Linked DNA regions of Homo sapiens. The protein of the gene in region 1 purifies or fractionates together with the protein of each later gene. This does not show direct contact. Each region holds a gene or a part of one and is shown in the gene's direction. Other genes may lie near its edges. The genes, in order: MED13, MED12L, MED9 and CDK19.

Region 1 (7,025 bases):
AAAAAAAAAAAAAAGTAGATATTTATTTATTTATTTCTGTACCTTAACTGATTTTGGAGATCATTTCTATCTGCACATATAGAGATTATCTTTTTTTATGGCTATATGTATTCCATTGTTCCTTACATATGATAATATATTTTACCAGTGCAGTGTTTATGAACATACAAATTGTTACCACCATTATCATTACAGCTACTTTTCAGTAATGCACAGATCCCTGGCTTTAAAGCATGGGTGTATTTTTATTTTATTTATTATTATTATTTTTGAGATTTGTTCTGTCACCCTGGCTGGAGTACAGTGGCACAATCATGGCTCACTGCAGCCATAACCTCCTGGGTCCAAGTGATCCTCTCACCTCAGCCTGCCAAGTAGCTGGTACTACAGGTGCTCACCACCACACCCAGCTAATTTTTGTATATTTTGTAGAGATGAGGTTTTGCCATGTTGCCCAGGCTGGTCTCCAACTCCTGGGCCCTAGTGATCTGCCCAACTCACCCTCCCAAAGGGCTAGGATTATAAGCACCCAGACGTGTATTTCAAGAAAAAAAAAAAAAAAACCTAAATAACTATCTGTAATGCCTTTTTTTTTTTTTTTTTTTTTTTTGAGACAGTCTCACTCTCTTGCCCAGACTGGAGTGCAGTGGCATGATCTTAGCTCACTGCACCCTCTGCCTCCCAGGTTCAAGCAGTTCTCATGCATCAGCCTCACGAGTAGCTGGGATTACAGGCATGCATTAACCACACCTGGCTAATTTTTGTATTTTTACTAGAGATGGGATTTTGCCATCTTGCCCAGTCTGTTCTTGAACTGCTTGCCTCAAGTGATCCACCTACCTAGGCCTCCCAAAGTGCTGAGATTACAGGCGTGAGCCACCATGCCCAGCCCCTGTAATATCAGTTTGAATTCCCACCAGTTAAAGTGCCTGTTTTCCCAAAGCCTTGCCTAGTAGGATGCTGATTCAGTGGATGAAAAATGGTTATTTCCCATTATAGTTTGAGAGATTAAATAGTACAGACTGTGGGGATAGATTTCTTGGGTTTAAATTCCTACTCTGCTACTTCTTGTGAAATGCTAGAGAAATTGCTTAACTTCCTCATTTATGTTTTCTCATCTCTAAAATGAAGTTAATAATAGTTTCTGCCTTATGTTTTTTGTGAGGATTAAATGAGTTAGTACATGCAAAGAGCTTTGAACAGTACCTAGCACATAGAATTATCATTGTTTGCTATTATTAATTTTAAATTGCTTTTTTAATGAGAAAGAGCATCTTTTTATGTGTTAGAGATAGTTTTGTTTTGTAATCTCCATGTTCTTAACCCATTTTTCTATTAGGTTGTTGGTCATTTTCTTTTAAAAATTTTTTTATTATGGTAAGAACACTCACCAGGCATGACGACTCACGCCTGTAATCCCAGCACTTTGGGAGGCCGAGGTGGGCAGATCACTTGAGGTCAGGAGTTTGAAACCAGCCTGGCCAACATGGTGAAACCCCATCTCTACCAAAAATTCAAAAATTATCCCGGTATGGTGATGTGTGCCTATAATCCCAGCTACTCAGGAGGCTGAGGTGAGATAATTGCTTGAACCCAGGAGGTGGAGGTTGGAGTGAGTGGAGATCGCACCACTGCACTGCAGCCTAGGCAACAGAGCAAGACTGTCTCAAAAACAAAACAAAAAAAAACTAAAAGAAAGAACACTTAACATGAGATCTGCGCTCTTAGTAAGGTTTTTTCTTTTTTCTATTTTTTAAATTATATTATTTTTAAATGTATAAATAAGGATGGTGTCTCACTATGTTGCCTAGGCCTCAAACTCCTGGGCTCAAGTAATCCTCCCACCTCAGTCTCCCAAGGTGCTGAGATTACAGGCATGAGCCACAGCACCTGGCCTACAGTGTATTTTTATGCCAATTTTTTGTTTGTTTGTTTTTGAGATGGAGTTTTGCTCTTTTTGCCTGGGCTGACGTGCACTGGTGCAATCTCAGCTCACCGCAACCTCCACCCCCTGGGTTCAAGCAATTCTGCTTCAGCCTCCTGAGTAGCTGGGATTACAGGCATGCACCACCATGCCCGGCTAATTTTGTATTTTTAATAGAGACAGGCTTTCTCCATGTTGGTCAGGCTGGTCTTAAACTCCCAGCCTCAGGTGATCTGCCCACCTCGGCCTCCCAAAGTGCTGAAATTACAGGTGTGAGCCACTGCACCCAGCCCCATGCCAAAAATTTAAATGCAGACCAGACGTGGTGGCTCCTGCACGTAATCCCAGCACTTTGGGAGGCTGAGGAAGGAGGATCACTTGAGCTCAGGAGTTTGAGTCCACCCTGGGCAACACAGCAAGATCCCATCTCTACAAAAACTTTAAAAATTAGCTAAGCATAGTGGCACACACCTGTAGTCCCAGCTATTCGGGAAGCTGAGGACAGAGGATTGCTTGAGCCCAGCAGGTTAATGCTGCAGTAAGGCGTGATTGTTCCACTGCAGTCTAATCTGGGCAATAGAGCAAGACCCTGTCTCAAAAAAATAAGTAAATAAAAAGACTTGTTTAGGAAATTCCTTAATGTTGAAAAGTCTTGACCACTGGCATTAAGTATTTTTGTCTCTAATAAAATATTTTCACTAATAATGACTTCATTAACTTTTGACATTTAAATAAAAAGGAGGCCGGGCATGGTGGCTCACACCTGTAATCCCAGCACTTTGGGAGGCCGAGGTGGGCGGACACAAGGTCAGGAGCTCGAGACCATCCTGGCTAACACGGTGAAACCTCGTCTCTACTAAAAAATACAAAAAATTAGCCAGGCGTGGTGGCAGGCACTTGCAGTCCCAGCTACTCAGGAGGCTGAGGCAGGAAAATGGCGTGAACGCGGGAGGCGGAGCTTGCAGTGAGCCGAGATGGCGCCACTGCACTCCAGTCTGGGCGACAGAGCGAGACTCTGTCTCAAAAAATAAATAAATAAATAAATAAATAAAAAGGAGACATGTCTTGTTTTTAAGTGTTTTCTTAAAATACATCTTTCTTATTTAGGAACTGATGAATCCCCAGAACCACTGCCAATCCCCACATTTTTGTTGGGTTATGATTATGATTATCTGGTGCTTTCTCCATTTGCTCTTCCTTATTGGGAGAGACTTATGCTGGAACCCTATGGATCTCAAAGAGATATAGCCTATGTTGTACTGTGTCCAGAAAATGAAGCCTTGTTAAATGGAGCAAAAAGCTTTTTTAGAGATCTTACTGCAATATATGAGGTAGGTGTTTAAAAAGAGATGACATTTTAAAACTACCTTACGATTTGTATTGTTGTATATACAGCATACTGGGCAGTTCAGTTGATTGGGACACAGTGATGATGTCAGATTAGATGTTTATTTCTCATACTAGCCAGTTACATTCTTTGCTGAGTTTGACCCAGTCTGTTAGATGTGTATGCCGTGGGTCAGAGTGGCTATCCCCCTATAGGAGGAAGAAACATTGAGGGCATATAGATATATATCCCTTTTAATGTGGCTTTTTCTAAAACAAAGGGTAACAATGTTAAATAGCCAGGAAAAAAGTTACATTTACAAAAATTCTAGTCTTTATTCTCTAGGATTTCAGGTAGTGACACTAGGCCTCACTTTCCTCATATGTAAAATAAATCTATGCTAGATATCACTAAGGTCCATTTCAGGTCTGAAATTCTTGCCTCTTCTTTTAAGTTATAATTCTCACATATCCATCACCAGGCGCAATAATTGTAAATTATAAGTGTTATGGGACATAAAGTCTTACTTTATTATTCCCTCCTTTTTCCACAAAGGCTTCGAAATTTAGTCTTTAAATTTTGATTCCTTATACAATCTGAATGTTAGTGTATGTTAGTTTAGCTTCCTTTTAAAATTTTCCACATAATTACAAGGTATTTGTAGTGTGTTTTTAATAAATAAACATTTCCCAAAGGGTGTTATTTGGAATATCAGTCCGGTAAAATCCTCTCAGAGAAAAAGTTCCATAGTTAAATAGGCTTGGGGAAACATTGTATATTATATTACCTTTTAGAGATTTACAATTCATATTAGGTTTTTAAAGGCTTTGAAATTCTTACAGTAAAGAACTCTTCTAAGTTTGCTTAATCCAATGTTTTAAATTTATTTAACATTGGGCTTCTAATAACAAAAATCAGTGACTCACAGAACTAGAGGGAGAAGGTGTATAAATATATTTGTATAACAATTTTTATTTTGCTTTGATTTAGGGATATTTGTATTCATAATTCATGAATTGGTGTTAATGTATACCTAAAATGACTGCATTTTTATGCTCACTTATGTCTGCATTCTGCAAGCTTTTATTCAAACAAAATGGTTCTAGTACTATTGTTATCTAGGTGTTTTTTCATTAGAGATATTTTAATTTTGAAAAAAAATTAATGAATTTCTAATGTAAAAATGAAAAAGACCTATGGCACCATTTCACCCTTGATATGTTTATTTTTTTGGCCTACTTCTAAAAACACCCTTGATATTTTTATCATAACTGTTAATTGCAAATGGTTAAGCTTATTTTAAGTAGCTTTCATGGTTGGTTTTATAATGTGTATCTAAATACAATAATAAATTTACTAATTCTGCTTTCTGTATGTATATTTGTAGTCCTGTCGATTAGGTCAACATAGACCTGTTTCTCGACTGTTAACAGATGGGATCATGAGAGTTGGATCTACTGCATCAAAGAAACTATCAGAAAAGTTGGTAGCAGAATGGTTTTCTCAGGCAGCTGACGGTAACAATGAAGCATTTTCTAAACTCAAGCTTTATGCACAAGTCTGCAGATATGACCTAGGTATTGAATTTGTATTTATTGTATAAGGCTGGTGTTAGCAAAATGTGGCCTGCTCCACCAGCTGTTTTTGTAGATAAAATTTTATTGGAACACAGCCATCCTCATTTATGTATTTTCTCTGGCTGCTTTTGTGCTACAACATTGGAGCTGAGTAGTTTTCATAGAGACTGTGTGGCTGCAAAGACAAAAATATTTATTATCTGACCCTTTACAGAACAAGTTTGCTGATCCCTAATGAGGGATCCCATCAGGTAGGAAGAAATTATGGGTTATAAATAAATTTTCTGTTGCCTCTGTAGGGTCTGATGTTTTAATAACTTGAAGATTCTTCATTTGTTACAGTTTAGAGATAAAATAATTTATAGTTAATCTCTACCAAACCAAGAAATAGTTCTTTGTTGTAGCTAAGAAAACGACAGCTGTTTAAGACTTGCTTGTTACATACTTTTTTTCTTTCATTCTACCCGTGCCTAACTGTATTGCTTATAAATACTCTTGAAAATAAAGATCAGTGGACTTCCTTTAGACTTAATCCAAAGAGATGCAGAACCAAAATATTGAATCTCATTAGACATTCCTATAATTTGAACCCCATAACATTATACCATTTTATATTTTAATTAGCTGTCAATGTAGTCAATATTTATTTGATTTGTGATTTAGAAACCCTTTGAATAGTTTGATGAATATTGCTAGATACCTTTTTTACATTTAATTATACTTAGAAAATAGAATTTTGTTACACTTTCATAGTAATCATTTCTTTAATTTTGAGTGAAAATTCTGGCTTTTTCAATTCCATTTTAAATATGTTTCTTCAGTCTCTAGGGGAAAATAGAAAGCAAGTGTAGGTCACACCATTAGCAAGCAATTTCGGGGCTATAATTACCAAGAAAACATCAACTGGATTATGATTCTGTTTACACAGTAGAATTTAAAAAAACCAGTCAGTGAAATAAAGAATTAAATTTCGTACCTGTTTTTATTCTTTAGGTCCTTATCTTGCTTCCCTGCCATTGGACAGCTCTCTACTTTCCCAGCCAAATTTAGTTGCCCCTACAAGTCAGTCTTTGATTACTCCACCTCAGATGACAAATACTGGAAATGCTAATACTCCATCTGCCACCTTAGCATCTGCAGCGAGCAGCACTATGACAGTGACTTCAGGTGTTGCCATATCTACTTCAGTTGCCACAGCTAATTCAACTTTGACCACAGCTTCAACTTCATCTTCATCATCCTCCAACTTGAATAGTGGAGTATCATCAAATAAACTACCTTCGTTTCCACCCTTTGGCAGTATGAACAGTAATGCTGCAGGATCCATGTCTACACAAGCAAATACAGTTCAGAGTGGTCAGCTAGGAGGGCAACAGACATCAGCTCTACAGACAGCTGGGATTTCTGGAGAATCATCTTCACTTCCCACTCAGCCGCATCCTGATGTGTCTGAAAGGTACCTTTAAAAATACTGATTTTTGCAGAAATATAAAAACTATGATGCTGCTTCTTTCTTTTTTTTTCTTGAGACACAGTCTCACTCTTTTGCGCAGGCTGTACTGCAGTGGTGGGATCTGCACTCACTGCAACCTCTGCCTCCCGAGTTCAAGTGATTCTCCTCCCTCAGCCTCCCTAGTAGCTGGAATTACAGGCATGTGCCACCACGCCTGGCTAATTTTTGTATTTTTAGTAGAGACAGGGTTTTGCCATGTTGACCAGGCTGGTCTCAAACTTCTGACCTCAGGTGATCCACCCACCATGGCTTCCCAAAGTGCTGGGATTACAGACGTGAGCCACCACGCCCAGCCATGCTGCTTTTTTTCTAAATAAGACGTTTTGAATGAGCATAAAGTGCTTTTTTATCTTAGTCTTGAAATTTTAGTTTGTATCTTTTTTTAAGACAAGGTCTCACTCTGTCACCCAGGCTGGAGTATAGTGGCGTGATCACGGCTCACTGCAGCCTCGACCTCCTGGGCTCAGGTGATCCTCCCACCTCAGCCTCCTGAGTAGCTGGGACTTACAGGCATGCACCACCATGCCCAGCTACTTTTTTGTAGAGATGTGGTTTCACCCTGTTGCCCTGGCTGGTCTGGAACTCTTGGACTCAGCAATCTGCCTGCCTCAGCCTCCCAAAGTGCTGGGATTACAGGCATGAGCTATCGCACCCGGCCTAGTGTTGAATATTTTATGTATAAAA
Region 2 (7,798 bases), on another chromosome or scaffold:
GTAAGCAAACTGCCTATAGACAATCTGTTAACAAAACACAGTATATACACCTGGACACGCAACAATCCCATGAGGAAAGCTAGCAACTTTAATTACTTTACCTACAGGCACTACACTGAGAATTGTTTCTTTCCACTTGAGTGGAATTGTGCTGCTATGCCAGAGTGAGCTGTCAGGAGTTTTGCTTCTCTTATACCAGAACTGTCTTCAAAGGCTCACCTTTATGTGTTATGTAAATGATAATTAATACATGTAACACATTGACAACAATAATAAGCATAAGTTTGGGAGTCAGAGAGATTCTAGGTTTGATTCTGGCTTTGCTAGTCGCTAACTCAATGGCCTGGGAACAGCAGCTTCACCTCTGGAGCCCTACCTACTAATCTGTAAAATAGGAATAGGAATAGTAGGACCACTCCCTTCCCTTCCCTTCCCTTCCCTTCCCTTCCCTTCCCTTCCCTTCCCTTCCCTTCCCTTCCCTTCCCTTCCCTTCCCTCCCCTCCCCTCCCCTCCCCTCCCCTCCCCTCCCCTCCCCTCCCCTTCCCTCCCCCTTCCCCCTCCCCCTCCCACTTCCCCTGCCTTTTCCTTCCCTTCCCTTCCCTTCTCTTTTCTCTTTTCTTTTTTCTTTTTTTGAGACAGAGTCTCTGTTACCCAGGCTGGAGTGCAGTGGGGTGACCGCCGCTCACTGCAACCTTCACCTCCCAGATTCAAGCGATTCTCCTGCCTCAGCCTCCCAAGCAGCTGGGACTACAGGCATGCACCACCACGCCCAGCTAATTTTTTGTTTGCTATGTTGGCCAGGCTGGTCTTGAACTCCTGGCCTCAAGTGATCCACCCACCTGGGCCCTCCCAAAGTGCTGGGATTACATGTGTGAGCCACCATGCCCAGCCAGGACCACAGTTTCTGATGGGTAAACATCCTGCCTCTGCTCCTAGCCATTCTTCACTCTCATTTAAAAAATCTGCTCTGCTGCCAGGTGCGGTGGCTCATGCCTGTAATCCCAGCACTTTGGGAGGCCAAGATGGGTGGATCGCTTGAGGCCAGGAGTTTGAGACTAGCCTGGCCAACATGGCAAAACTCCATCTCTACTAAAAATACAAAAATTAGCCAGGTGTGGGGGCATGCACCTGTGATCCCAGCTACTCAGGAGGCTGAGGCAGGAGAATCGCCTGAATCCGGGAGGTGGAGATTGCAGTGAGCAGAGATGGCGCCACTGCACTCCAGCCTGGGTGACAGAGCAAAACTCTGTCTCAAACAAAACAAAACAAACAAACAAAACAAAACAAAAAACAACTTCTCTGCAAATGATTGTGTCTCTGCCTTTCACCAAAGAAATTTTATTCCTCACTTCAAACTTTTTGAGAGGGTCACTGACCTGAGCATTTGACATTCATCCTCTGCAGTTTGGATGAACCTGAGGAACTGGTCTCCGATTTAGACTATTGAACTTTCAAGGTGGAGAATTGTGGCTTGCAGAGTGTGTTCATGGTGGGCAAGGACAGAAGGCTGGTTAGAAAATGCCTGCACTAGCGTATGTACAGGCAAAGGACATTTGTGTATTTCTGGCAGACCAAATGTAGGGAGAGAAAGCCAGCCATGAGCTATATTGAAGGGATTTGCCCAAAAGCACAAATGGATACCAACTGTGAGGGACTCCTTGCAGAATGCTGAAAATCAGGGCTTTCAGAGGGAACATAAGCAGTTAGGGAATCTTTGAGAAACCCTTGAATGTGACCCAAGAAAAAGGGTCAACTTTTAAATACCTGGTAACCCTCAAAAGCAGCAGTGAAGACTCAGCTTTATACTTGGAGGATATAGCACCATATGCTTAAAATGGTTTGTAATTCATTCACCTTTCTCCAGCCACATTTCAACCCCATTTCCCTGGATAGCTATACAAAACTTCCTTAGGAACCTGAACTCATCCCTTCTTGCTAGGCTGAGGTTCAAGGCTGGGACCTATTTGGGGAGCCTCTGGTCTTCTCTAATTTCTGTTCCATGCAAATTTTTCCTGGTCCCAGGGAATCATTAGCTAGGTAAAGATAAAATACCCCTTAGGAACAGTATCAGCTAGAACCCACATTATTCAACGAGAATGTTTGCCTGCTATATTAACCAGCACCACGTGGGAAATTCAAGCACTGTATAGAACACAGTGGGTTACAGGTTAAGCCCATCATGATGAGCTGATCTTAGTCTGCTTAAAGACCTGGAATGGAAGAAGGGGACCAGGAGGAAAAGGTGAGAATGAGGCAACAAGACTATTCTGTGTGACACATTCAAATGCATGCCAATAAATAAGTGTTAAGATAATAAAAATTAAGTGCTAAGGGCACTAAAAAGCCAAAAGATCACCTTTTGCCAGGGGAATTTGAAGGGGCTTTGTACAGGAATCCGTACTCTGAGGACTGTAGAGGTGAGTATTTGAAGATGAAGAGCCTGGGAATTCCATATTAGGAAAGGAAGCTAACTAGGGCAAGAGGTTAAGGAGAAAAAGCTGAATTGCTAGGTAGGGGGTAGATTACAAAGATTTCCCAGGGTAAGGAGCCAAATGCCCATGGGAAATCCATGCAGTAAAATAATGATTCCTAGGGGAAGCTTCTAAGCATATTAAAGTTTTCAATATTTATTTATTTTGTGTTGAGAGGGTCAAGGAATTCATGCCAGACTGTTTCAGGAGAGGGAGTTAAGAAGGGACAACAACAGGGAGAGGGCTATTATTTTCCCTTCTTCCCAAACACCAGGGGCACACTACTGACACATTTTGATTTTAAGATAAAATTCTTATGGGCAGATAAGATTTTAAGTGCTTCAAAGTGTTTCAGTTGGAGGCGCTTGCTTAGGCATCCCAAGGGAAGAACTGAGATTACATTTCTCCCCCAAACTAGGGGTGTTTGATTCAGTAGCAGCGCAGGCTGTTATTCCCAAAGTACCACTAATGATGCAATCATCAGTCCATCCACACATCGCCTACCTATCATCCATTCCATAAGCCAACATTTTTGAATGCTCACCATGTGTCAGGTCCCATACAGTGTTTCTGAGTTGCAACAATGAGTAAAACTGTCCTTACTAGTGTATGTCAGTGAGTTGGGAATGGGGGAGAAAGATGAAACAAAAATAGTAACTTTAATTTTTATAGCTGAGAGATGAATATTTGAGGGCTCCTTATATGATTTCTTCAGCTTTTTGTATGTTTAATAATTTCCCTAATAAAGTTAGATAATAAAAAAAACCCTTTCGGCCGGGCGCGGTGGCTCACGCCTGTAATCCCAGCACTTTGGGAGGCCGAGGTGGGCGGATTGCGAGGTCAGGAGATCGAGACCATCCTAGCTAACACTGTGAAACCCCGTCTCTACTAAAAAAAAGAAATACAAAAAAAATTAGCCGGGCGTGGTGGCGGGCGCCTGTAGCCCCAGCTACGCGGGAGGCTGAGGCAGGAGAATGGCGTGAACCCAGGAGGCGGAGCTTGCAGTGAGCCGAGATCTCGCCACTGCACTCCAGCCTGGGCGACAGAGCGAGGCTCTGTCTCAAAAAACAACCAACCAACCAAACAAAGAAAACAACAACAACAAAAAACTGTCCTTTCTTTCAAACAAGGGAGCTACATTTGATAGATGCCTGTATCACAAGGGCAAGTCCAGCCATGAAATTAATCCCAGGATATTAGTGGAAGAGAAGACCCTGGGGCAAGATGGGGAAGGTGGTCAGGAAATGCCCTCCAGTGAAGTTAGGTAAATGCTCTCTAGAAGTAATTGTTCAGATTAAGGAAGCCAAAAGCTAAACACCTGACTCAGCCTCAAACTGGGTTTGGAGGTGCTCACAGGTCAGGATCAGGAGTGAGGAACTAGCCTCTACCACATTACCTTCACTTTATTTATCTCCTTCTTCCCCCTTTGCTTAAATGTCAACGAACATCAAAGTTGATGTTCAGATTCAACCAGCATTTCCAGAGCACCTACTATGTATCAAAGGCTTCCGGTTAGAATCTGCCTTTACCACCTTACAGAGAGGGAAGGCCGAGAATGCCTCAAGCCGTGGAGAACGTGAGTCCATCAGGCAAGGACAGGTTAGGAACCCAGTCCCTCCAAGTCCAAGTCAGGGAAAACAGGTCAGAAACTTAGAATCAGTCGTGGGTTCAAATTCCGACTCGTTTCGTGGCTTTCGGCAAGTGAGTGGTCCTCTCTGAGCTGGCTCAATTTCTCCATCCATAAAAAGGGTACAGTAAGACCGTGGAAGGTTGTAAGGACCAGAGATTCTGACTATCAAGATCCTGGCACGTAGCGAAGGCTCCATAAATGGCAGCCATCATTCTTGGCCAAGTGCGGGCGCATTCTCCCGGGCACGCCTCCCGCGGGGTCCCTCAGGACAGGCCGAGCCCGCCTCCGCGGCTCCGGTCTCGCAGAGCTCGCGCCAGGTGGCCCAGCATCTTGGTGCCCGCGCCCCGAAGCGAGGAGCGAGGGCGGGTTGGATGACCAAGGTCTGCCCTGGAGGATCACCCCCCCCGCCCCTTCCACGCTCCCGGCGCAGGTGAGGTTTTCGGCCCAGGCCACGGGGACCGCGACCTCTGGGGAGGTCGAGGCGGAGGGTGCAGCGGGGGGCTTGGAGCAGGGCTCCAGAGGGCGCTCCCTCCCTCGCCCAGGTTCACCCCAGGGCCAGCCTCGGCGCCGGGGCCCGCGGGCTGCGCGCTCTGCGGCTGCGAAAACCCGGAGAGGCGGATTGGAGCGCGCTCACCGCGCTCTCAGCCAACTCCTCCGCGGTCCGGCCGCCGAGCTGGGCATGCTCAGTGCGGACGCCGCGCCGCCGTCCGCCAACTCGGAAGCTCGCGCTCCCGGGCCGTGGGGGCGAGAACGCCGGCGGCGAGCCGGCGTCGCTCGCCGCCCCCAGACAGTGGCAAACTTCGCGGCGTTCCCGGAGCTCGTCCGGGCGAGGCAGATACCGCACAAATAAAATCAAATCCAAGTCCCCCATCCCAACCCGAATGATGGAGGCTGCGGCGGCCGGAGTGACCCCGCCGCCGCCAGCCCCAGCCCGCTAGCCGCGGACCAACAGGTAAAGTGTTGGGGGTTGGGGGCGGAAGGGAAGAGGAGCTGGGGCCGTGGGGAGGCGGCGGGCTGGAGGAGCCCGAGACGCCTGCGGGCTGGCTGCCCCCGTCGGCGCTCACAGCCATCGCTCCTCACCCCCTTCCCCAGCCCCTGGAGGGACTGTAAAGGGTTAAGTCGGCCCCACGCCACCGTGAGCACGGCCCCCTCCAGCCGCCGCGACCGCCAGCAGCGCGCCTCGGCGCCTGCCCGGAGCCGCCGAGGGGACCGTAGCTGCGGATGCGCCACTGGAACCTGGCGGGCGTCTAGGAGGCACCGGCCGCTTCCCACCGGCCGCATCCCTGCGTCTCGCGCCCCCTCCAGACCTGCCTCTGCCTGCACTGGCCCGGTCCGTGTCCAGGTGGCGGGGTCTGCGGGGCGCGTGGCGGCGGGGGAAGGGTCCCTGCCGGGGAAGAGAGGCGGGGGCGGTCCGCTCCACAGCTTCTTCCCGGGAGGGGAGGGCCACCCTCGCCTTGGGCGAGCACTTCAGCCACCAGCCTAGGCGCCAAGAAAAGTTTTTTTTTTTTTTTTTCCAGTGCCCCACCCCCACCCCCATCCTGCGCCCAGCTGGGGTGGGTTTGGGTCCATTGGTGAAAAAAGTCACACGTTCCCATCAGCTGCTCCTCCCCCTGGAGACAAGGTAGGGGGGAGCAGAGGAGGCAGGCGCCGCGGAGGACCCTGGCCGACCTCTAGTCCCTCCGCCGCCGCCACCGGAGCGGTGCGTCCCGGGGCTCGAGCGCAGCCGAGTACCCGCCGAAGGCTGTCCCCATCAGTGCGTGTCTGCTGCCGGGCAGCGGCAGCATCCAACCTGCTTTATTCCTCCTGCCTGCAGCGCCACAGCGAGCGAGCGAGCGAGGAGGGGGAGAGAGGGAGTCTGTCTGCAAAGTGCTGCTCCCTGGTGCTCAGAGGCGGCTGCTCCAGCTCCAACTCTCATTCATTTCGCCGGTTAACATGAGAGATCATGGCCGCCTTCGGGCTTCTCAGCTATGAGCAGAGACCGCTGAAGCGCCCCCGGCTCGGGCCGCCCGACGTCTACCCACAGGACCCCAAGCAGAAGGAGGTAAGGGCGCCGGCGGCCTCCCCGGCAACCGGGGCCGCGCTCTGCAGCACTGACCCGGGGCCAAGTTGGCCCAGCGGGCATCGCCGGCGCTGCGGTGGAAGAGGTCGGGGAGGGGGATTAGAGGCGGGGGCCAGGCTGGGGGTGCTGGGCGACCCCCCGGCGGCGGAGACCGAGCGGCTGTCAGTCCCCGCGCTCCACTGGGGCGCTCGCTTTCCATGTGCCGGTCGCTTTCCCGTTGCCGGGCCTTGCACGGCGCCGCCGGGCGCTTCTCGGGCTTCTTCCCTGCCGAAACCTTGCTCGCTCTCACCCGTTTCTGCCTGCTTTATTTTTCTTCTTGCCGCTTCGGTAAATCGTCGTAAACTTTTTGAAAAATGTTGGAATGCAGTGCATCCTACACTGAGGTCTTGCGTTTTGCTTTTGCTGGCCAGGGACGAAGGTGAGGGGGAAGCTTTTCAAATTTTCCAGTTTGGAATGGAAGTCGTTTTTATCGAAGTGATAAATATTTAGCTCTCTGAATATACCTCTGTAACCCTTCTGCCCTTTAAAAATTAAAATTAAGGAGAAACACTGATTTTCGTCTCTAGAGGCAATGGGCTTAATTGCTAGAGGCTGTTTTGTATACGTAAAAGCAGGCGAGTTACCTTGGGAGGGAATAGTTCCCAGGATTGCTTATTTCTTTGAATGAGATTAATTGGAGACACCTTGACTCTTGCACCAGCTACATTAGCTTCAATGGCTAGGGTAACCATGGCATTTTGTAGCTGTGTATCTGTTTGTCAGGAGTTAACAAGTAATTATGTAACAAGTCTCTAGTTATAATGATCACCTTTGGCTACACCATTTGCCCAGGGACTTGCCTTTTTTTTGTTTTTTTTTTGATCACCTGCTACCCAGCAGTGCTTTCTGAGTTTGCCAGCTGCAGTCCACCCATCTTCTGTTCAGCTAAACACGAACTGACCATATTTCAAAACTTACCTTTCTGAGAATCTAAAAACCCTCCATTAAAAGTTTGTGGGCCCACTGATAGCACAGAAAGGGCCTTGTAAACCAGGCAAGGAGGGGTCCTTAAGACTTTCCTTTTGATAAGTGTATCTTTCATTAGGAGAGTAAGTGCTTGTTCTGGCTAAACTGTCTTGCTTATAAAGTGTCTGAGAAGTAAGGAACAGCAACTCCTTTTAGAGGTTTAGCACACTAAATATGCTCTAGCATCAGTGGAGTCACGCAGATGAAAGCTGGGAAGGTTTTACAGGTGGTTTCCAGCACCAGCTTTACAGGATGGTAGAGGTTTGAGAAGATTTCCCAGATTTTTTTTCCTACCCGTTACCCCACCCTGCTACCCCAACTTAGAATGAAGTTAATGGTTAAGGACTGGAAATAATAGAGAAGCTGAGGATCAAGTGTACAGTTAATAGCTTAAAAATTATTGGGAGGAAATTCTTAAAGTTTTGATAGGGACAGGGATATTTTGTTGGTTGAACTTTATCATCTTGTAATTAATGTCTTACTCTGTCTTTCCAGAGGGCAGCATAATTGATGGCATGATGGCTTGGGGTGCTGTGTGGGCTTATTTAGCATTTGTTCTTCAGGCCAATGCTCATTTCACGACTGGGGCCTCTGATTCTGGAAAGAGTAATTTTGGATTTCAGGGTCTCACAA
Region 3 (6,747 bases), about 44 Mb from region 1:
CACTCTGTATCTAGCTCAAGGTTTGTAAACACACCAATCAGCACCCTGTGTTTAGCTCAAGGTTTGTGAATGCACCAATCGACACTCTGTATCTAGCTGCTCTGGTGGGGCCTTGGAGAACCTGTGTGTCCAAACTGTATCTAACTAATCTGATGGGGACGGGGAGAACCTTTGTATCTAGCTCAGGGATTGTAAATGCACCAATCAGCGCCGTGACAAAACAGGCCACTCGGCTCTACCAATCAGCAGGATGTGGGTGGGGCCAGATAAGAGAATAAAAGCAGGCTGCCGGAGCCAGCAGTGGCAACCCGCTTGGGTCCCCTTCCATGCTGTGGAAGCTTTGTTCTTTCACTCTTTGCAATAAATCTTGCCACTGCTCACTCTTTGGGTCCACGCTGCTTTTATGAGCTGTAACACTCACCGCGAAGATCTGCAGCTTCACTCCTGAGCCCAGCGAGACCACGAGCCCACCGGGAGGAACGAACAACTCCAGACATGCTGCCTTAAGAGCTGTAACGCACACCGCGAAGGTCTGCAGCTTCCCTCCTGAGCCAGCGAGACCACGAACCCACCAGAAGGAAGAAACTCCGAACACATCTGAACATCAGAAGGGACAGACTTCAGACGCGCCACCTTAAGAGCTGTAACACTCACTGTGAGGGTCCGTGGCCTCATTCTTGAAGTCAGTGAGACCAAGAACCCACCAATTCCGGACACACAAGTACATAAGGGTATAAGTACAAGATGTTCACTGTCATTCTAGTACAGTACAACCACCCATGAATAGCCAGGGTAATTTCGCTGTCTAATTGTATATGTGTTAACATGGAAGGACATCTGAGGTGCCTTGTTAAGTAGAAAAAGCAAGAATGAGAACTATGGATGGTCACATTTCTGTCAGAACAAATAAGAAAAGTTTGTGTGTTTTGTATGCTGTTGTACATTTCAAAGCCATCTGAAACAGTGGACACCACATGTTAGCAGAGGTTATCTCTGGAACAAGGGGTTAATGAGATTTCCCTTTTCTAAGCCTTGGTTGTCTCATTTTTGAATTTTTTCCCTCAAGTACCTATTACTGTCATTTTTTAAAAAAGTGATCTTAGAAAAATGAAAGCCACTGGAGTTAGTACCGTGCGAGGAGAGCCTGTGGGCAGAGGAATGGACTGGTAAGGGCTGGTCTGAGGGCAAGGCAGCTGGGACAGAGTGGAGTGTGAGGCACAGTGCATGGAAGTTGTGAGGAAGAAGAAATGGGAAACTGAGTCAGATGCCACCAAAAGGTCAAAAGAAATGACTGTCAGATTTGGGAGGAAGTCTGTGTCAGTGGTTCTAGCAGAGTTATTGGCCAGTTTGCATCTGTACTAAAGCATCCATGCTAAAAAGAAGAACAAAGAAAATCAGGGCATGATTCTCAGACACCTGCCTAAAACCCTGTGATGTTTGCCTTTGAGTCTGGTGACACGGATACAACTGTCTGTCAGACGTGGGAAGGATGCTCAGAGGATCACCCCTGGCGGTAGTATTTTTGTCCACTCTTTAAAAAAACCATAGTAGGGGGCTGGGTGCGGTGGCTTACGCCTGTAATCCCAGCACTTTGGGAGGTTGAGGTGGGCGGATCACCTGAGGTCGGGAGTTCGAGACCAGCCTGGCCAACGTGGAGAAACACCATCTCTACTAAAAATACAAAATTAGCCGGGCGTGGTAGCGCATGCCTGTAATCCCAGCTACTCAGGAGGCCGAGGCAGGAGAATCACTTGAACCCGGGAGGCGGAGGTTGCAGTGAGCCAAGATCGCACCATTGCACTCCAGCCTGGGCAACGAGTAAAACTCTGTCTCAAAAAAAAAAAAGAAAAAAAGAAACCACAGTACCACAGTAGTTGGGACCAAAGTGCTCTGACCTTGCCTTGTTTGTACGATGTTCATCCTCCTTGACCTAGTGGCTTTTTTCATTCCTTCTATAGTTGGCCGATGACTAACCTTGAACACAAAGGTAGGCCCACTTAGAGCTTTCTGCTTTTATTCACTCGGTATTTGGTCCTGTCCCTTTTCTTTTGGCTTGAATATTTCACAGTCATCCTGGCTTAGCAGATGCCCACTTCTGAATAGCATGTTCTCTTCACTCCAGGAGTTCCATGCTATTTACCTCCACCAACTAGGGCAGTTGGGCTTGCAGAGGGGCCTCCCTGTGGGCTGCATGGCCCCTTTTGGCTCAGCTGCCCTCCAGGCGGCTTGTCTTACAGCTCCTTTTTTATTATCTGAAGACTGTCTCCTTTCCTGAAAGTTCACCAAAGAACACGCAACCCTTGCTATTTGGGGGTTTTCAGAGATGAGCATCTTAAACATGACCCACTTTCAACTTTCAGAACTAAATTTTCTTTTGGGCCAGGTTATGTTTGCTTCAAGAATGGGATTATCTGTCATCCACATTTCTATTTTAAGTACTTTTTTGTTTGTTTTACCATGTCCTTTGAGACTCATGTGAGTCGGTTTTTTTAAAAACTATATTTTAATTTTAAAACTTCCTTGGGACTTAAATTCGTAACGGTATGTTAACACGCATGCCATCCGAGTAGAAGGATTTCAGAAGTGCAGATGGTTTCTGTCCACATTTGTGGATCAGAGCTGAGACTTCAAAGAATTAAAATAAAAGACGTTCCCTATTTGCTTCCTTCCAAAGGATTTTTAGTTCTCATGAATACCAGTTCATCCTCTCTAGAATCTGCGATAAGGTATACTGTTAATGGTGTCTCTCAGTTGAGGGCATCATTTCCTGGCCTCTCATTTCCTGGAAGAAGTGATTGATTCTCCATACCCTCCCTCTGAGTTTAGAGCTGTTGGTAAATACTGAGCTGGCCATGGTGGCCATCTGATTTGCAAGGTGTGAGACGTAACTGATGGATCGCCAGGAAAGATGGATATTCTGCCTGCGTAAGCAGAGAAATGATGAATAGTAAACATGAATTAGCACCATCTGGGTTGAAATTTCCCACTACGGATGAACATTTATTTGAAAAAATTAATGATCATTGACAGTTTTTCCCTCTTATGCCTCAATGGCTTACTTTCAGAACAGCTTACTGAATTGCCTTTTAGTTTTGGTCTCAACCACTTGTTTTCAAAAGCTCATCCACTTACTAACTTTTAAAAAACGTATAGGAAGCTGAGTGTGGTGGCTCATGCCTGTAATCCCAGCACTTTGGGAGGCCGAGGCAGGTGGATCACCTGAGGTCAGGAGTTCAAGACCAGCCTGGCCAACATGGTGAAACCCTGTCTCTACTAAAAATACAAAAATTATCCGGGCGTGTTGGCATGCGCCTGTAATCCCAGCTACTCAGGAGGCTGAGGCAGGAGAATTGCTTGAACCGGGACCCGGGAGGTGGAGGTTGCAGTGAGCCGAGATCGCACCACTGCCCTCCAGTCTGGGCGACAGAGTGAGACCCTGTCTCAAACAAACAAAAAATGTACAGGAGCAACTGCCAGGCTGTTTTTTTGATCTTAAGTGAGATTGTTCTTGCCTCGTTTTTCATTGAGTAGGACCTCTGTGCAGCTAATAGCTGTGAGATGGAGCGAACCGTCTGCCTTGAAAGTGAACTTGACTCAAAGACAAGGACTGTCCATGACCATGGTAGAAGAGAGCCTGTGTCTGCTGAGACATTTAAATCAGTTCCATTTTAACTAATCTAACATTTATGAACAGCTCTGTGGAAATTAGTCTTTATGTTAACAGGTTCAAGCCAGCATCAAAACCTCAGCTAAAATTAGCTCTTGCTAACTGATAAAGCCTCCTGATTGGCCTAGAAATGGCTCCAGTTAGACAAAATGTCGTATTTCAACAAGTTTTGTTTGGCATTTGTCACCTGATATTGGTATTGGTTTGTTCATTGAACCAACATGTTCATGAGCTTATTTGCTAAGCATTCATTCTTTCCACGGACATTTCTTGAGTGCCTGTAGTGACCTACACACTGGGCCGGGGGTAGGGAGACACCTGTGACCAGGCAGACATGGTCCTTGACCTCAGAGTGACAGTTGACTTGACAGAAGATCAAGAGTGTCTGTGTGTGATCTGCAAGTGTGCTAGGCCTGGGAGCTCTGTGCCAGCTGCCTAAAAAAGAACCCGTCCCTGCCCTCTGGGGGTGGACAGCCTAGTCAGGGGATAGACACATAAAACGAAGTGTTCTAAAAGCTATGGCAGGAATGACAGCCAGCTCTAGGGGGTGCAGGGCAGGAACGCCAAGACGTGTATCAAGCTGTGAATGCTAACAGCTGTTCTTCCCCCACAGCATGGACAAGGACAGCCCGGAGGTCCACCAGGACCTGAACGCCCTCAAAAGCAAGTTCCAGGAGATGCGCAAGCTCATCAGCACCATGCCCGGCATCCACCTGAGCCCCGAACAGCAGCAGCAGCAGCTGCAGAGCCTCCGGGAGCAAGTCAGGACCAAGAATGAGCTTCTGCAAAAGTACAAGAGCCTCTGCATGTTCGAAATCCCCAAGGAGTAGAGTGAGGCTGACTTCCTTAGAAAGAGGGGGAAGCCAATGGCCTGTCTCCCCACTACCATCCCCAAACGCTCCTTGGGGCGTGGTTCCTGTGGACCCCAGCTCAGCTCGTCAAGCTGCAGGGGCGGGGCTCCTGTGCTGCTGCGCGCGCTTCGCCTGTGCGGGAGCCAGCGCAGAGCTTGGCTGCGCCGGGGGTTCCTCGTGTAGATCCATATGTCTAGATGCATAATAACTGGAGTGCCTGCTGGTGGAAGTCAGAATGCTCCTGGAGGCTGCAGAGGGGGTGGAGGACTCTCCCCTGCCTCTGGGGAGGGGGCCATCTGCTGCGCCCGGCCCCACTGACAGATCTGAAGAGCACAGTAGGAAGGGAGGCGGCTCCTCTTTGCTTCCTTCCCTCTCTCTCCTCCCACCCCCATAGGATCAGTGTGTACCAGGTACACATTGTTCCTGTTAACAGCAGCTTCTTGAAACATTTGCATAGAATTCACTGGACGAATTAAGCCTGCACTCATATGGCATAGAATTGTGAGAGAATGTTTTGAAAGGCCAGAGGGTGGCCTTTTTCCCCAAACAGTTTGGTTCCTTTTATGTTTGAGCCAGTGAAGGGAACTACGCTTTGGGGGCTTCAGCCTAGAGCCCTGCCAGGCAGCCCCTGGCTCCAGGTTCCCTGCCTCCTAGCGCTCTCCTCGCCTTCAGCTCTTGCTCCCTTCCTCGTTCATCACCCTCAGTCAGTGCCCAAGAGTGGCCAAACCGCTTCACATCTGCAGTGCTTCCCCAGGGTTGACAAGGGGCCGTCCTTTCCACACAGGCCAGAAGAGGTCTTCAGGCGAACCGACCTTCCCCCTTCTGGCATTTCAGATTCCCCTTGCTCTGGTTAAAAGGTCTTTCCCTCGTGGCCTTTGCACTTGCGGCAGCAACGTGTACTACACTGCAGAAGGGTTCAGTATGCACCTTGTGTTGAGAGAGAGGCAACCCTGGGGGCCAGTTCAGGTGGTCCCCAACCATAAGCTAGGTCTGAAAGTTACACAGCCAAGTTTGAGCTCTTAAAAGTTGATGAACAGCCTCATTTCCCCAGCTTCCCTGATTTCTTCCAGATGGGACGTTTTATTTGTGTGCTCTCCCTTGACTGTCAGATTGAAGTAAGAGCAGTTCTCTCCGTTGCCTCTCGAGGAGGAGGTGCGAAGTCCTGGAGTATTGTTTGGGTCTCGGAATGGGCGCATAACCTGCGCTGACCAGTTTAGGGGCTTAGCAGATGCCTGCCAGCTGACCTCGTTGGCAGGAGGGTTGGGTGGAGATGTTTTTAGCAGAGCTTCCATTAGTGTAGACCTGTAGCCACCTGTCAGAAGGTGGGTGGCATATTGGGGACCTGGGAATGTGTGAAGGAGGAGATCAAATTTCAGTGGCTTTGGACAGAAAAGAAGGCTCTGGATTTAAGCGGGTGGTCACCTGTGAGACCAGGTCTACCTTGGGACTGTTATTTAACTGAATCAGTTATTTCCTTGAAATTTCACAGTAGTGGGTGGGCCTGTTTTAAGGCTCTGACAGATACCACGAAACATGAAGCACGTGGAACTACAAGACCCCCGGGGTCTTTCTGAGTGCAAGGCTGAAATGGACAAGGGCTCCTCACGGGGGTGGAGGGAGCCGGAGCCTGCCTTGTGTTCCTTTTTTGACTTGTGACATTTTTCAAACACATAATTAAAAGGACTTATGCTCTGCTGTCTCAGGACATAATGCTTTTTGTACTGAGAAATTCATAGTGGGATGGCTCTCAGATAGTTGAGAGGAAAATGTTTCTCTCAGTCTCTTCAGACACAACCACACCTCTGCTCCTCACTCCCTCCGCCCCAGCACACACACCCGCCCCAGCACACACACCCGCTGAACCAGTGTGGAACAGGAACTCCTCTCCCGGCTGGCCTCAAGGGCAGTTTGCCTGGCGGGTCATCCCTGGGCTGTCCTTAGTTGCCTTTTATTTTTGGAGGGGGGAGGTGGGGGGTGCCTTTTGGTGACTCGAGGAGGTTCAGTCCTGTGGGGAGCCGCCCTCACCAGAGCAGGGTTGAAATCCTTCTAGGACAATTTTGAGTGTCTCTCACAGGGCTGAGCGTCCTCTGAAAGCCACCAATTACTTGGATTACTGGGTGGCCGGCATTTATGCTAAGTACTTTTCAAACATCACACTTAATCCCCACAGTGAGCCCATGCCGAGGGTGTTCTCTCTTCCCGGGGTGAAGAATTAGAGGCTTGGCAGGT
Region 4 (7,017 bases), on another chromosome or scaffold:
CATGTTGGCCAGACTGGTCTTGAACTCCTGACCTCAGGTGATCTGCCCAGCTCAGCCTCCCAAAGTGCTGGGATTACAGGTGTGAGCCACTGTGCCTAGCCACAACTGAGTTGTTTTTAACCAAAACTACCTTAGTGCCCTGTTATCTTGGACCAGATATTCCAAGTCGTTTGGCAGCCTTTGAGCACTGAGCAGGAGGACCTTGCTGATCTGTTCTTTCCTAAACCCCCAGTGCCACCTCAAGATAATTTACATGTTTAACTCAAAGTGTAACCGCCCGACAGGTTCTTCTTGCTCGCTGCCCAGATAGAGCCAATTTATCAAGACAGGAATTTCAATAGAGAAAGTTTAATACACATAGGGCCAGCTAAATGGGACATCAGAGTTTTATTATCAGCCTCCTCAAAATTTGGAGGCTAGGATTTTTCAAAGATACTTTGGTGGGCAGGGGTCTAGGGAATGACTACTGCTGCTTGGTTGGGGATGCAATCAAAGGGGTGTGAAAAATGGTCTTCCTGTGCTGAGTCCACTTCTGGGTGGGGGCCACAGGACTGGTTGAGTCATGAGTCTCAGTCTGGGTGGAGTCATCCGAAATGCAAAAGTCTGAAAAGCCTTCTGAAAAGGTTGACAATAGTGATGTTATTTACAGGAGTAATTGGGGAGTAGCCAATTGACCTCCAGAACAATGACTGGTAATTGTTTAACTGCACCTACATCTTAGCAGAATTCAGGCCTCTCTCATAATCCTAAACTTGTGGCCTTTTAGTAGTTTTATAAAGGCAGTTTAGTTTTGGGATGGACTATTGTCGTTTAAACTATAAACTAAATTTCTCCCAAAGTTAGCTTGGCCCATGCCCAGCAATGACCAAGAACAGTTTGGAGGTTAAAGGCAAGATGGAGTGGGTTAAATCAGATCTCTTTCACTGTCATAATTTTCTTGCTGTTTAATTTTTGCTAAGGAAGTTTCAAAAGTAATAGCTTTATTACATATATTCTTTCCCACTTTGCTTACAAGAAAAACCAGCCTTCTGAATATAGCCAAAGATACTACTTCCAGCTATGCTTGTCTCTTACATACTGTTCTTATTCTATAGATGATTTTTCCTTTTACACATTTTTTTTGTATTTGCGTTAGGTACTATGAAGATGAAGGTTTCATTTAATGTAATAAAAATACATTGAATTGAAATGCATTTTTCTGTCTTCTCTTGAAGACAATCATATGTGAAAATTGCTTTATTCTAAATGTTACCTGAAGTTTATAAAACCCACATGTTGCTGCCGCACCCCACCTAATCTTGCCTTACTTTGTCTCGTAGGTAGAACTCCTGATACCCCTAGCTTCTACCTCTGAAAACCCTTTGCTCTAAAATAATGATTTCTTAATCACAGCTTTGTTATTTATAATGGGAAAAATAATAGCATGTCAGTATACATTATGAATACTATTGATTTCAGTATGCCAAATTGATTATTCTTGTTTGCACGTCTCAGTTATGCAAAGGATTGTTACACCCCAGAATTGGAATAAAGAGAAATGGGTCCGCTGAAATTTCCCCTTTTCCTTTCTTTCCAGTGTAGCTTATCTCCCACAAAAATCTAGCCAAATTTCATGCCTGCCAGAATGTGTGGTTACAGTGGTGGCAGGCTGTGATTTCAAATAAGCAAAATGTGTTAACAACTTAAGTTAGCTGTCAGCTATGTGTGTCTGAACCAGGAACCTAATGAAAACGGCTTATATCTCTATCCTACTGTGATGAGCATCTTGAGTCATCCTCTTCCTCCATCAGTAATTCCCTTTTCCTGTTTCCTTCTCCTAGCACTCCAGTTCTCGCCTGAATTACCAAAGCAGCGTTCAGGGATCCTCTCAGTCCCAGAGCACACTTGGCTACTCTTCCTCGTCTCAGCAGAGCTCACAGTACCACCCATCTCACCAGGCCCACCGGTACTGACCAGCTCCCGTTGGGCCAGGCCAGCCCAGCCCAGAGCACAGGCTCCAGCAATATGTCTGCATTGAAAAGAACCAAAAAAATGCAAACTATGATGCCATTTAAAACTCATACACATGGGAGGAAAACCTTATATACTGAGCATTGTGCAGGACTGATAGCTCTTCTTTATTGACTTAAAGAAGATTCTTGTGAAGTTTCCCCAGCACCCCTTCCCTGCATGTGTTCCATTGTGACTTCTCTGATAAAGCGTCTGATCTAATCCCAGCACTTCTGTAACCTTCAGCATTTCTTTGAAGGATTTCCTGGTGCACCTTTCTCATGCTGTAGCAATCACTATGGTTTATCTTTTCAAAGCTCTTTTAATAGGATTTTAATGTTTTAGAAACAGGATTCCAGTGGTGTATAGTTTTATACTTCATGAACTGATTTAGCAACACAGGTAAAAATGCACCTTTTAAAGCACTACGTTTTCACAGACAATAACTGTTCTGCTCATGGAAGTCTTAAACAGAAACTGTTACTGTCCCAAAGTACTTTACTATTACGTTCGTATTTATCTAGTTTCAGGGAAGGTCTAATAAAAAGACAAGCGGTGGGACAGAGGGAACCTACAACCAAAAACTGCCTAGATCTTTGCAGTTATGTGCTTTATGCCACGAAGAACTGAAGTATGTGGTAATTTTTATAGAATCATTCATATGGAACTGAGTTCCCAGCATCATCTTATTCTGAATAGCATTCAGTAATTAAGAATTACAATTTTAACCTTCATGTAGCTAAGTCTACCTTAAAAAGGGTTTCAAGAGCTTTGTACAGTCTCGATGGCCCACACCAAAACGCTGAAGAGAGTAACAACTGCACTAGGATTTCTGTAAGGAGTAATTTTGATCAAAAGACGTGTTACTTCCCTTTGAAGGAAAAGTTTTTAGTGTGTATTGTACATAAAGTCGGCTTCTCTAAAGAACCATTGGTTTCTTCACATCTGGGTCTGCGTGAGTAACTTTCTTGCATAATCAAGGTTACTCAAGTAGAAGCCTGAAAATTAATCTGCTTTTAAAATAAAGAGCAGTGTTCTCCATTCGTATTTGTATTAGATATAGAGTGACTATTTTTAAAGCATGTTAAAAATTTAGGTTTTATTCATGTTTAAAGTATGTATTATGTATGCATAATTTTGCTGTTGTTACTGAAACTTAATTCTATCAAGAATCTTTTTCATTGCACTGAATGATTTCTTTTGCCCCTAGGAGAAAACTTAATAATTGTGCCTAAAAACTATGGGCGGATAGTATAAGACTATACTAGACAAAGTGAATATTTGCATTTCCATTATCTATGAATTAGTGGCTGAGTTCTTTCTTAGCTGCTTTAAGGAGCCCCTCACTCCCCAGAGTCAAAAGGAAATGTAAAAACTTAGAGCTCCCATTGTAATGTAAGGGGCAAGAAATTTGTGTTCTTCTGAATGCTACTAGCAGCACCAGCCTTGTTTTAAATGTTTTCTTGAGCTAGAAGAAATAGCTGATTATTGTATATGCAAATTACATGCATTTTTAAAAACTATTCTTTCTGAACTTATCTACCTGGTTATGATACTGTGGGTCCATACACAAGTAAAATAAGATTAGACAGAAGCCAGTATACATTTTGCACTATTGATGTGATACTGTAGCCAGCCAGGACCTTACTGATCTCAGCATAATAATGCTCACTAATAATGAAGTCTGCATAGTGACACTCATCAAGACTGAAGATGAAGCAGGTTACGTGCTCCATTGGAAGGAGTTTCTGATAGTCTCCTGCTGTTTTACCCCTTCCATTTTTTAAAATAAGAAATTAGCAGCCCTCTGCATAATGTAGCTGCCTATATGCAGTTTTATCCTGTGCCCTAAAGCCTCACTGTCCAGAGCTGTTGGTCATCAGATGCTTATTGCACCCTCACCATGTGCCTGGTGCCCTGCTGGGTAGAGAACACAGAGGACAGGGCATACTTCTTGTCCTTAAGGAGCTTGTGATCTGTGACAGTAAGCCCTCCTGGGATGTCTGTGCCATGTGATTGACTTACAAGTGAAACTGTCTTATAATATGAAGGTCTTTTTGTTTACTTCTAAACCCACTTGGGTAGTTACTATCCCCAAATCTGTTCTGTAAATAATATTATGGAAGGGTTTCTATGTCAGTCTACCTTAGAGAAAGCCAGTGATTCAATATCACAAAAGGCATTGACGTATCTTTGAAATGTTCACAGCAGCCTTTTAACAACAACTGGGTGGTCCTTGTAGGCAGAACATACTCTCCTAAGTGGTTGTAGGAAATTGCAAGGAAAATAGAAGGTCTGTTCTTGCTCTCAAGGAGGTTACCTTTAATAAAAGAAGACAAACCCAGATAGATATGTAAACCAAAATACTATGCCCCTTAATACTTTATAAGCAGCATTGTTAAATAGTTCTTACGCTTATACATTCACAGAACTACCCTGTTTTCCTTGTATATAATGACTTTTGCTGGCAGAACTGAAATATAAACTGTAAGGGGATTTCGTCAGTTGCTCCCAGTATACAATATCCTCCAGGACATAGCCAGAAATCTCCATTCCACACATGACTGAGTTCCTATCCCTGCACTGGTACTGGCTCTTTTCTCCTCTTTCCTTGCCTCAGGGTTCGTGCTACCCACTGATTCCCTTTACCCTTAGTAATAATTTTGGATCATTTTCTTTCCTTTAAAGGGGAACAAAGCCTTTTTTTTTTTTGAGACGGAGTGTTGCTCTGTCACCCAAGCTGGAGTGCAGTGGCACGATCTTGGCTCACTCCAACCTCCACCTTCCAGGTTCAAGTGATTCTCCTGCCTCAGCCTCCCGAGTAGCTGGGACTACGGGCACGCACCACCACGTCTGGCTAATTTTTGTATTTTTAGTAGAGATGGGGTTTCACCCTATTGGTCAGGCTGGTCTTGAATTCCTCACCTCAGGTCATCCGCCTGTCTCGGCCTCCCGAAGTGCTGGGATTATAGGTGTGAGCCACCGCACCCAGTTGGGAACAAAGCCTTTTTAACACACGTAAGGGCCCTCAAACCGTGGGACCTCTAAGGAGACCTTTGAAGCTTTTTGAGGGCAAACTTTACCTTTGTGGTCCCCAAATGATGGCATTTCTCTTTGAAATTTATTAGATACTGTTATGTCCCCCAAGGGTACAGGAGGGGCATCCCTCAGCCTATGGGAACACCCAAACTAGGAGGGGTTATTGACAGGAAGGAATGAATCCAAGTGAAGGCTTTCTGCTCTTCGTGTTACAAACCAGTTTCAGAGTTAGCTTTCTGGGGAGGTGTGTGTTTGTGAAAGGAATTCAAGTGTTGCAGGACAGATGAGCTCAAGGTAAGGTAGCTTTGGCAGCAGGGCTGATACTATGAGGCTGAAACAATCCTTGTGATGAAGTAGATCATGCAGTGACATACAAAGACCAAGGATTATGTATATTTTTATATCTCTGTGGTTTTGAAACTTTAGTACTTAGAATTTTGGCCTTCTGCACTACTCTTTTGCTCTTACGAACATAATGGACTCTTAAGAATGGAAAGGGATGACATTTACCTATGTGTGCTGCCTCATTCCTGGTGAAGCAACTGCTACTTGTTCTCTATGCCTCTAAAATGATGCTGTTTTCTCTGCTAAAGGTAAAAGAAAAGAAAAAAATAGTTGGAAAATAAGACATGCAACTTGATGTGCTTTTGAGTAAATTTATGCAGCAGAAACTATACAATGAAGGAAGAATTCTATGGAAATTACAAATCCAAAACTCTATGATGATGTCTTCCTAGGGAGTAGAGAAAGGCAGTGAAATGGCAGTTAGACCAACAGAGGCTTGAAGGATTCAAGTACAAGTAATATTTTGTATAAAACATAGCAGTTTAGGTCCCCATAATCCTCAAAAATAGTCACAAATATAACAAAGTTCATTGTTTTAGGGTTTTTAAAAAACGTGTTGTACCTAAGGCCATACTTACTCTTCTATGCTATCACTGCAAAGGGGTGATATGTATGTATTATATAAAAAAAAAAACCCTTAATGCACTGTTATCTCCTAAATATTTAGTAAATTAATACTATTTAATTTTTTTAAAGATTTGTCTGTGTAGACACTAAAAGTATTACACAAAATCTGGACTGAAGGTGTCCTTTTTAACAACAATTTAAAGTACTTTTTATATATGTTATGTAGTATATCCTTTCTAAACTGCCTAGTTTGTATATTCCTATAATTCCTATTTGTGAAGTGTACCTGTTCTTGTCTCTTTTTTCAGTCATTTTCTGCACGCATCCCCCTTTATATGGTTATAGAGATGACTGTAGCTTTTCGTGCTCCACTGCGAGGTTTGTGCTCAGAGCCGCTGCACCCCAGCGAGGCCTGCTCCATGGAGTGCAGGACGAGCTACTGCTTTGGAGCGAGGGTTTCCTGCTTTTGAGTTGACCTGACTTCCTTCTTGAAATGACTGTTAAAACTAAAATAAATTACATTGCATTTATTTTATATTCTTGGTTGAAATAAAATTTAATTGACTTTGCTTCTGTGTGGATTTTTTAAATATAAAAAAAATCTTATAATAAGGCTTAGTGGCTGGACACAGTGGCTCATGCCTGTAATCTCAGCACTTCGGGAGGCTGAGGTAGAAGAATTGCTTGAGGCCAGGAGTTGGAGACCTGACTGGACAACATAGTGAGACCCCATCTAGCGTTAAAATTTTATCTGTGTGCCTAGAAGCTTTTATAATTACACTTTTCCTGCAGAGATACGAAGTCTTTCTGTGAGTTCTAATATGTTATTTTGTTCAGGATGCTATGATGTCATAATACTGCAAAGCAAGCAAGGCCTGCAAATACCTCATAAGTAAAATTGCAGGTTTTTATACATCTTTAGGAGAAACATCTTTTTAAAAAAATATAAATGAGAATTAGAAAAGACTAATAAGCATTTTGTGGATGGGGTTGGATTGGGAGTTTCTTGTTTTATAAGAGCACTCTGTGGTACCTGGCTGCTCCTTCTATAATTTGTTTGATGAATCTTCTATGGTT

Evidence for each region.
Region 2: the proteins of MED13 (region 1) and MED12L purify together in Homo sapiens (affinity purification with mass spectrometry, with the first as the bait; 2 studies listed by BioGRID). This does not show direct contact.
Region 3: the proteins of MED13 (region 1) and MED9 purify together in Homo sapiens (affinity purification with mass spectrometry; 6 studies listed by BioGRID and IntAct, with this or other methods). This does not show direct contact.
Region 4: the proteins of MED13 (region 1) and CDK19 purify together in Homo sapiens (affinity purification with mass spectrometry; 8 studies listed by BioGRID and IntAct, with this or other methods). This does not show direct contact.

What each region holds. Positions count from the first base shown.
Region 1 is NC_000017.11:61,964,265-61,971,289, reverse strand, and holds part of MED13 (mediator of RNA polymerase II transcription subunit 13), read left to right. Parts: intron 1-3,031; coding exon 3,032-3,255; intron 3,256-4,638; coding exon 4,639-4,828; intron 4,829-5,821; coding exon 5,822-6,284; intron 6,285-7,025. UniProt on the Homo sapiens protein: Component of the Mediator complex, a coactivator involved in the regulated transcription of nearly all RNA polymerase II-dependent genes.
Region 2 is NC_000003.12:151,080,884-151,088,681, forward strand, and holds the start of MED12L (mediator of RNA polymerase II transcription subunit 12-like protein), read left to right. Parts: upstream 1-4,780; 5' UTR 4,781-5,053; intron 5,054-5,771; exon of another isoform or gene 5,772-5,914; 5' UTR 5,915-6,043; coding exon 6,044-6,142; intron 6,143-7,798. UniProt on the Homo sapiens protein: May be a component of the Mediator complex, a coactivator involved in the regulated transcription of nearly all RNA polymerase II-dependent genes.
Region 3 is NC_000017.11:17,486,999-17,493,745, forward strand, and holds the end of MED9 (mediator of RNA polymerase II transcription subunit 9), read left to right. Parts: intron 1-4,280; coding exon 4,281-4,497; 3' UTR 4,498-6,223; downstream 6,224-6,747.
Region 4 is NC_000006.12:110,609,470-110,616,486, reverse strand, and holds the end of CDK19 (cyclin-dependent kinase 19), read left to right. Parts: intron 1-1,820; coding exon 1,821-1,952; 3' UTR 1,953-6,509; downstream 6,510-7,017.